3 separate regions of the Homo sapiens genome follow, and all the other regions are reported to be linked to region 3. Evidence: microRNA targets listed by miRTarBase, many of them from high-throughput screens and not tested one by one. Region 3 holds a microRNA gene; each other region holds the end of a gene's coding sequence.

Region 1 (5,000 bases), not on the chromosome of region 3:
TCAGATTCATAAAACAAGTTCTTAGAGACCCAAAAAGAGACTTAGATTTCCACACAATAATAGTGGGAGACTTTAACACCCCACTGTCAATATTAGATCATCGAGACAGAAAATTAACAAAGTTATTCAGGACTTGACCTCAGCTCTGGATCAAGTGGGACCTGATAAATATCTAGACATCTTTCCACCCCCAAACAACAGAATATATATTCTTCTCAGTGCCACATGGTACTTACTCTAAAATTGATCACACAATTAGAAGTAAAGCACTCCTCAGCAAATGCTAAAGAACTGAAGTAATAACAAACAGTCTCTCAGATCACAGCGCAATCAAATTGGAACTCAAGAGTAAGAAAGTCACTCAAAACCACAAAACTACGTGGAAATTGAACAACCTGCTCCTGAATGACTCCTGGGTAAATAATGAAATTAAGAGAGAAATCAAGAAGTTCTTTGAAACCAATGAAAACAAAGAGACAATGTACCAGAATCTCTGGGGCATAGCTAAAGCAGTGTTAAGAGGGAAATTTATAGCACTAAATGCCCACATCAAAAAGCTAGAAAGATCTCAAATCGACACCCTAGTATCACAACTAAAAGAACTAGTGAACCAAGAGCAAACAAACCCAAAAGCCAGCAGAAGACAAAAAGTAACCAAAATCAGAGTGGAAATGAAGGAGCTAGAGACATGAAAAACCCTTCAAAAAATAAATGAATCCAGGGGCTGCTTTTTTTTGAAAATATTAACAAAATAGACTATTAGCTAGACTAATAAAGAAGAAAAGAGAGAAGAACCAAATAGACACAATAAAAAATGATAAAGGGGATATTACCACTGATCCCATGGAAATATAAACAACCATCAGACAATACTATAACAGCTCGGTGCAAATAAACTCGAAAATCTAGAAGAAATGGATAAATTCCTGGACACATACACCCTCCCAAGACTGAACCAGGAAGAAGTTGAATCACTGAATAGACCAATAACAAGTTCTGAAATTGAGGCAGTAATTAATAGGCTACCAACCAAAAAAAGCCCAGGACCAGATGGATCTACAGCTGAATTCTGCCAGAAATACAAAAAGAAGCTGATACCACTTCTTCTGAAACTATTCCAAACAAATGAAAAGGAGAGACTCCTCCCTAACTCATTCTATAAGGCCAGCATCATCCTGATATCAAAACCTGGCAGAGATACAACAAAAAAAGAAAACTTCAGACCAATATCCCTGATGAACATCAATGTAAAAATTCTCAATAAAACACTGGCAAACTGAATCCAGCAGCACATCAAAAAGCTTATCCACCACGATCAAGTTGGCTTCATTCCCGGGATGTGAGGCTGGTTCAACATATGCAAATCAATAAACTTAATTCATCACACAAACAGAACTAAAGACAAAGACCACATGATTAACTCAATAGATGCAGAAAACACCTTCAATAAAATTCAACATCCTTTCATGTTAAAAACTCTCAATAAACTAGGTATTGAAGGAACATACTTCAAAATAATAAGAGCCATTTATGACAGACTCACAGCCAATATCATACCGAATGGGCAAAAGCTGGAAGCACTCCCCTTGAAAACCAGCACAAGACAAGGATGACCTCTCTCACCACTATTCAACATAGTATTGGAAGTCCTGGCCAGGGCAATCAGGCAAGAGAAAGAAATAAAGGGTATTCAAAGAAGAAGAGAGGAAGTCAAAATGTCTTTGTTTGCAGAGGACATTATCCTATATCTAGAAAACCCCATTGTCTCAGCCCAAAAGCTTCTTAAGCTGATAAGCAACTTCAGCAAAGTCTCAAGATACAAAATCATTGTGCAGAAGTCACCAGCATTCCTATACACCAACAACAGGCAAGCAGAGATCCAAATCATGAATGAACTCCTACTCACAATTGCTTCAAAGAGAATAAAATACCTAGGAATACAGCTAACAAGGGAAGTGAAGGACCTCTTCAAGGAGAACTACAAACCACGGCTCAAGGAAACCAGAGAGGACACAAACAAATGGAAAAATATTCCATGCTCACAGACAGTAAGAATCAATATCATGAAAATAGCCATACTGCCCAAAGTAATTTATAGAGTCAATGTTATTCCCATTAAACTACCATTGATATTCTTCATAGAATTAGAAAAAACTATTTTAAAATTTATATGGAACCAAAAAAAGAGCCTGTATAGCCAAGGCAATCCTAAGCCAAAAGATCAAAGCTGGAGGCATCACACTACCAAACTTCAAACTGTACTGTAAGGGTACAATAACCAAAACATCATGGTACTGGTACAAAAACTGACACATAGACCAATGGAATAGAATAGAGAACTCAGAAATAAGATTGCACATCTACAACCATCTGATCTTCAACAAACCTGAGAAAAACAAGCAATGGGGAAAGGATTCCTTATTTAATAAATGGTGCTGGGAGAACTAGCTATCCATATGCAGAAAATAGAAACTGGACCCATTCCTCATACCTTATACAAAAAATTAAGATAGAATAAAGGCTTAAATGTAAAGCCCAAAACTATAAAATCCCTAGAAGAAAATCTAGGCAATACCATTTAAGACATGAGCATGGGCAAAGATTTCATGATGAAATCACAAAAGCAACTGCAACAAAAGCAAAACTTGACAAATGGGATCTAGTTAAATTAAAGACCTTCTGCACAGCAAAAGAAACTATCATCAGAGTGAACAGGCAACCTACAGAGTGGGAGAAAATTTTGGCAATCTATTCATCCAACAATGATCTGATATCCAGGATCTACAAGGAACTCAAACCAAGTTACAAGAAAAAATAGAACCGCATTAAAAACTGGGCAAAGGACATGAACAGACACTTCTCAAAAGAAGACATTCATGCAGCCAACAAACATATGAAAAAAAAGCTCAATATCACTGATTGTTAGAGAAATGCAAATCAAAACCACAATGAGATATCATCTCACACCAGTCAGAGTGGCTATTATTAAAAAGTCAAGAAATAACAGATGCTGGCGAGGCTGTGAGGAAATAGGAACGCTTTTACACTGTTGGTGGGAATGTGAATTAGTTCAACCATTGTGGAAGACAGTGTGGTGATTCTTCAAAGATCTAGAACCAGAAATGCCATTTGACCCAGCAATCCCATTACTGGGTTTATACTCAAAGTAATATAAATCATTCAATTACAAATATATATGCACACATATGTTCATTGAAGCACTATTTACAATAGCAAAGACATGGAATCAACCCAAATGCCCATCAGCAATAGACTGGATAAAGAAAATGTGGTACACATACACCATGGAATACTATGCAGCCACAAAAAGGTATGAGATCATGTCCTCTGCAGGGACATGGATGAAGCTGGAAGCCATTATCCTCAGCAAACTAATGCAGGAACAGAAAACCAAACACTGTAGGTTCTCACTTATAAGTGGGAGCTGACCATGAGAACACATGGACAAAGGGAGGGGAACAATGCACACCAGGGCCTGTTGTGGGGGTAGGGAGAGTATTAGGAAAAATAGCTAATGCATGCTAGGCTTAATACCTAGGTGATGGGTTGATAGGTGGAGCAAACCGCCATGGCACATGTTTACCTATGTAACGAACCTGCACATCCTGCACATGTACCCCAGAACTAAAACTAAAACTAAAATAAAATAAAAGCACATTTTACTTAAGAGGTATTTTTGAAACCTCAATGCAATCATCTCATTTTACATGAAAACTCTGAGCTTAGAGAGGTACAAAAACTTGCTCATGGTCATAGCACTACTTAGTTACAGCACCTGGTCACCTGCTCCCAATTTCATAATCATTTCATCAGATATCAGTATGAATTTTGAGAAAAATAAACAACAACAAATTGAGTATTTTTCAAGAATAAACATTTCCTATATTAATCTGATATAAAAAACACTTCACATTATTTCAAACTAGTCAATAAATTAACATTATATACCAAAATAGCAATAAGTTAACAATCCCTTCTTTCACATTTTAATCAAGTATATTCTCAAAAGTCTTACAATATTACATTAAGATTTAATGTATCAAATCCAACAGCATTTCATCTCAATATTTAACAATATTATGTTCAATATTGAATAGTAAAAAGAAGCTAAACTTTATCTCTTTGTGTATTGATTTCAGCAATTCTGACAGTGTTTGATCCTCCATGCACGTGTTTCTACGCATCAAGAAAGCACAGCTACAAGGTTAACCCAAAGAACAATTTAAAAGCTATTTCAATGGCAATTTCTGTGACTGAGTCATGAAAACAGACATAAAGTTCTTGAGGTTTTGGATGAAGAAAAAGTCTCCTGCAGAAGAAAAGAACACACTCATTTCAGAAATTAAAACAACAAACAACAAAAACTCTAACCATCCAATTAATTTAATTTTTGTTTCTGAAAGCATCAGTAGTAAATTTAAAATCCATGAATCTAAATCTATACTAGGGAGAAAGCAGCTAGATTTATTTCTAAATAAATAATATATGCCTTAGGTCAATTAGTTTTTATTGCTCTAGAGTGTAATAATCCTATTTTATCAATATGTATTATGATACCACTCAGTTTTTAAATAGCAAATCTAGTTATTATAATAAAGGCAATAGCACTAGCATTATAGGCACAATAGTTATTAAGTATTTTATTGCTCTTTACTTTCTAATGTTTAATTTTTATTAAAACATTAAATATATGGTAGCTTTTTTTGGCAAATAGAACTGAATTGGAATTAACATTGAAATTTTGTTTGGTTTTCTTAAAGAGTTAAAATTGAAATCCATTTAATCAATACTAATGTATACAAATTGATCTATTTAAACTGGAGATAGTTCTGCCTGATTTTCTTAAATTTCTCTTCTGCATAAATCTGCATTATCAAAATTCAACATCTTTTGATTCTTTCTATTCCAATTGTCATGAACGTAGTTAACACTCGACTGAACAGCTACATGTGTGCCTAACTGGTCTTCTCATTTCTAGT
Region 2 (5,000 bases), not on the chromosome of region 3:
AACGACATGCATTCATGAAATTCTAGCACATCACCAATTATCTTGTACATATTATTTCCTCTGCATAGGGTAGCCTTGGCTCTTCCCTCTTAGCCTGAAAAGATCCTTTGAGACTTTTTAAACATTTTTTTAAAAATAGAGACAAGGTCTTGCTATGGCCCAGGCTGGTCTTGAATTCCTGGACTCCAGTGATCCTCCCACCTTGGCCTCCTAAAGTGCTGGGACTACAGGCATAAGCCACCGTGGCCCAGCCGATCCTTTGAGATTTAGTTCAAATGAAGGCAAGAAAGGGTAGTGATTAAAAAGTAGGTGTTTGAACTGAAGCTCTGCACTAGGTCCTCAGGCAAGCCTCATTACCTGAGTTTTCTTTTTTTTTTTTTTGAGACACAGTCTTGCTCTGTCACCCAGGCTGGAGTACAGTGACACGATCTTGACTCACTACAGCCTCCACCTCCCGGGTTCCAGCGATTCTCCTGCTTCAGCCTCCCGAGTAGCTGGGACTACAGGCATGTGCCACCATGCCGGGCTAATTTTTGTATTTTTAATAGAGATGGGATTTCACCATGTTGGCCAGGCTGGTCTCGAACTCTTGACCTCAGGTGATCCAGCCGCCTTGGCCTCCCAAAGTGCTGGGAATACAGGCATGAGCCACCACACCCAGCCACCGGAGTTTTCTTTAAAAGAACACTGTAGAGTTTTTTTTTTTTTTTAGTGTTGTAATAAATGAGACAAGATACAAAGCAGTTAGCATAGTACCTACCTCACAACAAAAGTGCTCAATATATGATAACCATAATAAATACAACACCTCAAAGTCTTCCCTAACATTCCCAGGGAGAATACTATTTATTTGTGCTTCCAAATATTATGTTTATACTTCTATTTGAGCATTTGTCACAAATTATATTATTTGCCCACATAAATGTGCATTCTTGGGAGCTAGAATGGTGCCCTATGCAATGTTTTATTGTCAGTGCCTAGCAAGTGCCCATCAATTTGTAAGTACTCAATATTTTTTTGATGAATGAATTATAGACAATAAGATATAGGGTGGCGTTCTCCAATTTTAACATGCAAGCTTTTAGAGTTTCTTTTTTTTTGAGACGGAGTCTCGCTCTATCGCCCAGGCTGGAGTGTAGAGGCGCAATCTTGGCTCACTGCAACCTCCGCCTCCCAGATTCAAGCAATTCTCCTGCCTCAGCCTCCTGAGTAGCTGGGATTACAGGAGTGCGCCACTATGGCCAGCTAATTTTGTATTTTTAGTAGAGATGGGGTTTCACCATGTTGGCCAGGCTGGTCTTGAACTCCTGACCTCAGATGATCCGCCCGCCTCGGCCTCCCAAAGTGCTGGGATTACAGGCATGAGCCATCGCGCCTGGCTGAGAATTTCTTTAAAATGCAGCTTCCTCCTAACTCCAGAGACTGATTTACTAGGATCTGCATTTTAGCAAGCTACCCTCCTATCTCACACACACATTTTGGTGCAATGGTCTTTGCAATATACTTTGAGAAACATTGTATAAAGCATGACTTATGGAAATAGTACTTTGTCTTAAATAAAAATATTAGAAAAGTATAAACAATCCTAATAAACAAATGTATTATTGTCCCTTGTGCTATAGATAAAGAAAGGGAGAACAATAAGCCAATTATAAGCACACTTACATTTTTACATGTTAACTCTGTTATAGTCAGGCATGTCACCTACATTTGGAACTTAAGATTTTCAACTCCTAAATTCAGGTGTCATTTGCAAGTAGATATTAGTAGAACAGATCATATTCATTCTCTTCATGGTAATAATGGTATAATTGGCTAATTTATTTTGATTGAGATGGAGACACTATTTAGGCTTTATAGTATTAGCTGGTGTTCATGTGGTCAGCTTTTGACATGTCCTGCCCCTCAGCCTATGTATGTTACAATTGTTTTTGTATCCCTCATTTTCTACATAGGATAAAACAAGCTGGTATGCTAGTGTAAAGGGGGAGGCATTAATAGCCTTGTGTAGAAAGTCCTTAGTTCCAATTAAAACAATTTAAATTATAAAATTGTGCACAGAGAGACCAGAGAGCTGATAATTGATCTTTATTATACAGAAATGTGAAGGCCATAAGCATTAAATGAGAAGGAGTTTGGCAGTGAACATTATGCAGATTCAAACTGAAGGTATCCTCGTCTTACTGAGATATAAAAATAAACACTAAGAGTTGCAAGAAAGAACTCAATTCAACTTCTATCTCCCAATCAAGCTATAACTTTCCACAGGAAAACCTGGTTTCAATTCATGCCGAATTGTTCAAAGAAAAGAAAAAGCTAAATCAGTTAGAGACAACACATGGACTGGCTTTTGTCCTATTAGAGAGCCAGACTGAAGCTGTATTCAGCCTCACATTTAGAGACTGTTTCCTATTACAATTTATATCTCTATTTGCCTAAGAGATACCTAAAGTGAAAAACAAAAAAATGTTAACTGAGCTGGGGCATTTTTGTGGGGCTAAGTAGATTTGGCAGAGGAGAGAAATGAATAAATAATTCATTTAATTATTTCTAATCAAGAGGATTTAATGTCAGGTCTGGGTCATCTGTATTAACCCTTTGACAGTTTGTTGTTCTATAATGGTCAAGAAGCACTATCCCATTAAAGTATAATAAATGCTGAACATCAGCACAGCTCAGTGCACATCCTCTTTATATCCTCAAATACTGGACTTTATATCAGCATGCTTTCAATACCAAATTAGCCCTTTAAATAGGATCTTTCTTAATAAAGCTTCTCATTGCCCTCACTACTGAAGTAAAAAACGTGTTAGAGATTTGGCCAGAAAGATGGTTTTACTGAAATAAGACTGATGACTAGGAGCACATCTATGGATTAAATATAGACAAAACTACTCCCAGAAACCTTAAATATAGACAGACTTTATTAATTTATGTAGGAAGCCAAAAATAGGAAATAAAAAGATCTGGAGTTCAGATATACTGATATATTCAGCAACTGAAACTTACAATTCCTTCAATTCAGTCAGAGCAGAGACATTTAAAGTAGTCTGGAGGGGTGGGTGCAGTGGCTCAAGCCAGTAATCTCAGCACTTTGGGAGGCTGAGGTGGAAGAATTGCTTGAGCCCAGGAATTCAAGACCAGCCTGGGCAACAAAGCGAGACTCTTGTCTAAAACAAACAAAAAAAAGCTGAGTATGGTGGCACGTGCCTGTAGTCCCACTTAGTTGGGAGACTGAGGCAGGAGGATCCTTGAGCCCTGGAGGTCAAGGCTGCAGTCAGCTGTGATTGCACTACTGTACTCCTGCCTGGGCAAGAGCAAGACCCTGTCTCAAAAGAAAAAAAAAAAAAAAGTGGCCTGGGGGAAACAGGACAGTCATATACCCCAAGAATGGAAATTTTCATGCCACCCCCCTTCCTTCCTTACAAATTCTAATGCTGATTGCATGAACGAGGTGTTGAGAGAGACTTTTCTTCATTTAGACATTTGCCCTAGTGAATGAGGGAGCAAGAGAATGCTAAGAGGGATGAGAGAATATATTTCTGGCTCTAGGACTTTGACATCCAGGTAATTGAATCTGGGACATTCTCATTAGGTTAGAAAAGGAAAGATGAGAAAATCACTAGCAGGATATGCAATTCCAGAGACCATCTGCTCCAAAAATTAGTTTTGTTTCTCATTGCTCCTTATTCAGCGACAGTTATTTCAATAAGCTACATTATTTAGCAGAGTCTGAGAGACAAAGGCTGTGAAAACATGTATTTATGATAGAAAACAAACTCAGAAAAATATAATAGATAGTTCACTTTTTATCTCATTCACATTCTATAGCTGGAGAACTCAAAATCCCATTTAGATATTTCTGCTTATCCAAAAGCACACTGGGTGAAACTAAACCACCAAATGGGAGAAAATGTTCATTGGGTGTGTGTGGCTTCACCCAGTTTATTTACCTATGGAGTGGAAGTGTAGGGAGAAATAAGGTCTGCTTATAATGGTCAAGGTCTATGGAGAAGCCCTGAAGTTGCTCTCCCCAAATCACAAGTCTGATTCAAGAAAAGGAAACAAAAATGATGAAAACATCTCATCACACAAAACTCAGTGATGGGGTCTCTGACAGTCACCAGCCAGCAGGGGAAAAGGAGAAATCCACCTGCCGGCTTTAAGATTTATTGAAGGCTGCCAGCACAGCCCAGATCATTTCTGTGGCACTAGGCTTTGTCCCTTCCACTTCAGGGTCCAGTTCTACTAAGTCCTTGGCTCGATTCATTGCCACATCATACTTGTCATCTGTCAGAGAGGAGAAGACATTCTCTAGCACATCAGAGGAGTGGGCTAGCACCAGGAGTGCTAGTGTTCGCTTGTCCATACGCTGAGGGTCATTTACCCACCGCTCTAGTACACTATCTTGAAGTTTTTTCACTAGTCGCTGTTTCTCTGTTGTATTGGTCACTGGATGAGTAGTCATGTCAAATAGCAGGAAATTCTGCTTCTCAGTGGTTAGAATACCTTTCTCTACTAGGTTCTTTGCGATGCGCTCTCGTACATTTCTCAGCTGGTACTGTAATTTGAAGGGGTTCCAGGTCTCACCTATGAGAAAAAAGAAATAGGACATAATGAACTGAAAGAGAAAAGCAAAATGAAACATGTAGTTGTTTGGAAACTTGAATGGCTAAAATGTTTAAAAGCATAATCTTCATTCCTCAATTCATTTAATCCTTAGTCCTTTATAATCTGGCTTTGACTCCAACCACATTTCACATTAAACCAGCTTCAAAAAATGTCACCAAGGACTTCCATATTGCTAGAGCTTATAGACTTTATTTCTGTTCTTATGTGACCTCTGTGACACTGTAATTATTTATGTATTTTTCAAATTCTATTTAGGACACCAGTCTCTCCCAGATGATTTCTACTCTATATTGTGGAAGTTCTATTTGCTGGTGAAGCTAAGAGGACTGAGGTTCCCTACCCTATTTGTAGAGCAGAAGCTCTATCCC
Region 3 (5,000 bases):
CCGCCCCCGCCGCCCCCACCCTGCTGCCCGCTGCCTACCTCTGCGCCCCCACCGCCCCACCCGCCGTCACCGCCGCCCTGGGGGGTTCCCGCTGGCCTGGGGGTCCCCGCAGCCGGCCCCGAGGCCCGCGCCCGGACGGTGAGTGCCCGCCCCGCCCCCGGGGTGATAGGAGCCGGGAAGAGAGAGGGCTGGAGACTCGGAGGAACTGGAGAAGTGGGAGAGGACGGGGGGAGGTGGCGGGCCCAGCCGGGCCACTGGGAGGGTGTGGCCAATGTGGTCTTTGTGTTGCAAGAAGCAGGAAGACGGAGGCTGGGGGTGGAGGGGGAGGTCAAGTGGGAAGTCCCTCCTGGAATCTGACTGCAGTCCCCGAATTGCAGCCCACTGTCTCTTCCGGGCCTGGGGCAACAGCTGCATCCCAGCTCCCCTCCCCCAGTCTGGGTCCTCTAGACCCCCTGGAGGATTCCTGTTGCAGGGAGAGTGGGCCGAGCGGGAGGACTGTCAACTCTGGCCTCTGGGGAGGGGTCGAGAGGCCTTTTGCTTTTATTTGCATCTCTTTGGCCAGGGGCTGTCCTCAGCAGTCCCGGCGGAGGAAGGAGAGGGGGAGGGGCCATTGTGTTGGGAAGTCCCCTCGGGGAGGTGGGGGAGTCTTGGGGAGGGAAGGGTTAAAGGTCCCCTGCCTGATGGGCTGTTAACCCTGTGGTGCCCGTGGAGCCCCATCCCTGCCGGCAGGCGCTCTAGGGAAAGTGTGTCCTGGTTTCCCATCCCCCATCTTGTCCCGGCAGCCCAAGGGGAGCGAGGAAAGAGAAAACTTCCCTAACTCAGTTCCTGGAAGCCCTGGAAGGGGACACCGATTTCAAGGCCAAGGTCACAGATGTGGAAACTGAGGCCCTGGCTGTAGGCCTTAGGGAACCCTCAGGCCAGGACCTGGTGGGACGGGAGGGCAGGAGCCTCCTAGGGCGCTCAGAAGTGGGGGGGGGGGGGGGGCAGGAAGGCATCTCCCGCGTCCCAGCCCCCCAGGCCCGCGCTCTGAAGCTGCCACAGTCTCTGGCCTTCTGGTCTCTAGGCCTCTGCCACATCCGGAGGTGTGGCTTCCCTGTGGTTGGACACGAGAGGGCAGGAGACCTGAGGCTTGTGATCTGGGTGGGGTCAGTCACTGTATCCCTGTGTGACCTTGGGATACTCCCTAAGGGCGGGCCTCAGTTTCCCTGCCTGTCACATGGAAAAGGCAAAATGTGGCCCCTTTGGAAAATAGAGGTCGTTAAGCCTGACCACCCCCGGGGTCACCTCTCTGGCCGTCTACCTTCCACACTGACAAGGGCCGTGGGGACGTAGCTGGCCAGACAGGTGACCCCAGAGCGGCGTCCCCAGGTACTTCTTGCTTTCTGGTGCCTGTGGAGGAGAAGCTGAGAAATTGACTCACTAGCGATGGGATCACTAGAAATGAGGCGGGGAGCAGTGGCTGGGAAAGAGGGGAGCAGGCCGAGACACCTCGAGGCCTGGAGGGGTGGTGGGTGCTGACCGCGCCCCTCTGCCTCTCCAAGGTCCTCAGCCCTCGCTCTCGCTGGCGGAGCAGCACCTGGAGTCGCCCGTGCCCAGCGCCCCGGGGGCTCTGGCGGGCGGTCCCACCCAGGCGGCCCCGGGAGTCCGCGGGGAGGAGGAACAGTGGGCCCGGGAGATCGGGGCCCAGCTGCGGCGGATGGCGGACGACCTCAACGCACAGTACGAGCGGCGGGTGAGTGCTGGGGGTGGGGTAGACGGCAGGTGGGACTTCCGCCGGAGGAGGGGGCGGCAGGCGGCCCCCGCCAGATGTGCGGCAGCTGCTGCCCTGCGCGGCTGGGTCGCTCCGCGGACAGGCAGGTGGGGGGTAAGTGGGTGGGGGGGAATCGCGCGCCCGCAGAGCCGCCCAAGGACTCCGCGCCGCGGCTGGCATAGCCGGAGCCCGAGCCAGGGCCAGGGCCAGGGCCAGGGACTAGGCCGCCGAGGAGTGGAGCTGCGCGCCCGTGGCCCGCGGCCGCGGGGACTGAGGGCGGCGCTGGGCGGCGCGGCTCATATATCCCGGGCTATTTATAGCCGGTGAGTCAGCAGCCGCGCCGCGCCCGCCCCCTGCCGTCCCTCTCGCGCGGCCCGCAGCGCCACACAGTTTCCCGGGCGCCGGGGCGGGCCGGGGACCGCAGGGGTGGGCTCGCAGCCCCGCCCCGCGGGAGGCCCCGCCCCCCAGCCCCTGGCACGGCCTCGATTTTTTAAAACAAATATTCGAAGCCCACAGCAGAGAATGGGAAATCACAAACATCATGCGCCCACCAGGCAGCTCTGTTCAGTTTGAACATTACACCCGCATTGCTTGCTTATTAAGAAACCAAACAAAACCGCAGAAACGCATGTGGTGAAGCTCCTTACTCTCCCCATCCCTTCCCCCTCCTTGCATCCAAAGGAAATCTCTCGAGTTGGCCTCTCTCAACCCCTGCAGGTGTTGCTTTTACTCCGTATTTACCAGGCCAGAACCAGGGCTTAGAATCATGGAGCATTCTTAGCTTAGCGTATATGACATAGTTTTTGTTTCTCCCCAGAATTCCTTTTTCCCTCAATATTAGGCTTCAGATTCACCATATGGGCAAAAGAGCTTCCATTCATCTATGTTCAGCCAGGCACGGTGGCTCACTCCTGTAATCCCAGCACTTTGGGAGGCGGAGATAGAAGGACGCTTGAGCCCAGGAGTTCCAGACCAGCCTGGGCCACATAATGAGATCCCCGTTGCTACAAAAAATACAAAAATTAGCCGGGTGTGGTGGCGCGGGCCTGTAGTCTCAGCTACTTGGGAGGCTGAGGTGAAAGGGTCCCTTGAGCCAAGGAAGTCGAGGCTGCACTGAGCCATGAAGGGTCACTGAACTCCAGCCTGGGGGACAGAGCAAGACCATCTCAAAAAAGAAACAACAAATACAGCCATTTTCGGCCTGGTGCAGTGGCCCACGCCTGTAATCCCAGCCCTTTGGGAGGCGGAGGCAAGTGGCTCACTTGAGGTTGGGAGTTTGAGACCAGTCTGGCCAACATGGTGAAACCTCGTCTCTACTAAAAATACAAAAATTAAGGCCGGGCGTGGTGGCTCATGCCTGTAATCCCAGCACTTTGGGAGGCTGAGGAGGGCGGATCACCTGAGGTCGGGAGTTCGAGACAAGCCTGACCAACATGAACAAACCCCGTCTCTACTAAAAATACAAAATTAGCCAGGCGTGGTGGCACATGCCTGTAATCTCAGCTACTCGGGAGGCTGAGGCAGGATAATTGCTTGAAACCGGGAGGCAGAGGTTGCGGTGAGCCGAGATCGTGCCATTGCACTCCAGCCTGGGCAACAACAGCGAAAATCTGTCTCAAAAAAAAAAAAAGAAACAAAAAGTAGCTGAGCATGGTGGCACACGCCAGTAATCCCAGCTACTTGGGAGACTGAGGCAGGAGAATCTCTTGAACCCAGGAGGTGGAGGTTGCAGTGAGCCGAGATCAGGAGATCATGCCACTGCACTCCAGCCTGGAGGACAGAATGAAACTCTGTCTCAAAAAAAAAAAAAAAAAAAGTCATTTTCACTGCTACATAGTATTCTGTTGGATAAACATAGTATCCTTATTCATTTTCTCATTGATGGATATTTAGGATAGATATGTATTTTTATTTTATGTTTAGAGACAGGGTCTCACTGTCTCCCAGGCTGGAGTGCCGTGGTTCAATCACAGCTCCCTGCAGCCTCCAACTCCTGGGTTTAAGGGATCCTCCCGCCTCAGCCTCCCAAGTAGCTGGGACCACAGGCAGATCCACCATGCCTGGCTAATTTTTATTTTATTTTTTTGTAGAGATCAGGTCTTTCTGTGTTACCCAGGCTGGTCTCAAACTCCTGGCCTCAAGTGATCCTCCTGCCTTGGCCTCCCAAATTGCTGGAATTATGGGTCTGAGCTACCTCACCCAGACTATTTTTAAATGTATTTCAGATTTTATTTTATTTATTTATTTTTTGAGACAGAGTTTCGCTCTTGTTGCCCAGGTTGGAGTGCAATGGTGCAATCTCGGCCCATTGCAACCTTCACCTCCCGGGTTCAAGTGATTCTCCTGCCTCAGCCTCCCAAGTAGCTGAGATTACAGATGCCTGCCACCATGCCCAGCTAATTTTTGTATTTTTAGTAGAGACGGGGTTTCACTATGTTGACCAGGCTGATCTTGAATTCCCGACCTCAGGTGATCCACCCACCTCGGCCTCCCAAAGTGCTGGGATTACAGGTGTAAGCCACTGCGCCCGGCCATTATTTATTGCCTTTTTTCCTCTCCCAATCATGCATATTTCCGGGTGCGCTCTTGTGTTTCTAGAGTAGGTACCTGGGTGGTCTGCCCACCATCCACCTTACTAGGTGATTGCTAGCTTTCTCACCAGGTGGCACCCACAGCAGTGTGACAGTGGTGGGTTTTGTAACTTACACCAATCCGATGTGCCCCCTTTGCCACCATCTCCTGGCCCCAAGAGTTGCTAGGGAGTGTTGAGGAGGCTGGGCTGGTACCAGGCGACTCACTACCAGGTAGCATGAGGACGATGAGGATCATTTAACCTTCTGTAAAGTGAGTTTCTCCTTCCCCTGCACCTGAAGGGAAGGAGGTTAGGTGGTCCCCACTTAGCACAGAGCCTGCCTGTGGAGCTACAGGGAGTGGCAGAGGATTGCAGCTCTCTGTACACTTAAAAAAAATTTTTTTTTTGACACGGAGTCTTGCTCTGTTGCCCAGGCTGGAGTGCAGTGGTGCAATCTCGGCTCACTGCAACCTCCGCCTCCCGGGTTCAAGCGATTCTCCTGCCTTGGCCTCCCTAGTAGCTGGGAATACAGGTGTGTGCCACCAGGCCCAGCTAATTTTTGTTGTTTTAGTAGAGACGGGGTTTCCCCATGGTGGCCAGGCTGGTCTTGAACTCCTGACCTCAGGTGATCCACCTGCCTTGGCCTCCCAAAGTGCTGGGATTACAGGCGTGAGCCAC

Evidence for each region. Region 3 holds the annotated microRNA hsa-miR-3190-3p (UGUGGAAGGUAGACGGCCAGAGA, at 1,286-1,308, opposite strand). A microRNA usually pairs through its seed, bases 2 to 8, with sites in the 3' UTR of a target mRNA and lowers its output. Matches are read on the target gene's strand: a 7mer-m8 pairs with bases 2 to 8, a 7mer-A1 pairs with bases 2 to 7 and ends in A, and an 8mer does both.
Region 1: the mRNA of INTU is a reported target of hsa-miR-3190-3p. Seed matches in the 3' UTR shown: 8mer at 3,079-3,086.
Region 2: miRTarBase lists GOLPH3L as a target of hsa-miR-3190-3p. Seed matches in the 3' UTR shown: 7mer-m8 at 3,961-3,967 and 7mer-m8 at 3,108-3,114.

The regions. Positions count from the first base shown.
Region 1 is chr4:127,715,655-127,720,654 of GRCh38, reverse strand. INTU (inturned planar cell polarity protein) reads right to left here. Exons shown (of 16, transcript NM_015693.4): 16 at 1-4,330. The coding sequence ends at 4,219. Among named protein-coding and RNA genes, the nearest start is that of SLC25A31, 12 kb to the left of the region's middle.
Region 2 is chr1:150,644,159-150,649,158 of GRCh38, forward strand. It overlaps GOLPH3L (golgi phosphoprotein 3 like), which reads right to left. Exons shown (of 5, transcript NM_018178.6): 5 at 2,072-4,590. The coding sequence ends at 4,163. Among named protein-coding and RNA genes, the nearest start is that of ENSA, 17 kb to the left of the region's middle. RefSeq lists an enhancer at 2,707-3,208.
Region 3 is chr19:47,223,296-47,228,295 of GRCh38, reverse strand. MIR3190 (microRNA 3190) reads right to left here and starts at 1,354; the gene lies at 1,275-1,354. BBC3 (BCL2 binding component 3) reads left to right here. Exons shown (of 4, transcript NM_014417.5): 2 at 1-138; 3 at 1,542-1,732. MIR3191 (microRNA 3191) reads left to right here and starts at 1,277; the gene lies at 1,277-1,352. RefSeq lists silencers at 1-239, 1,460-1,759, 2,129-2,295, 1,790-2,349 and enhancers at 272-1,214, 2,423-2,922.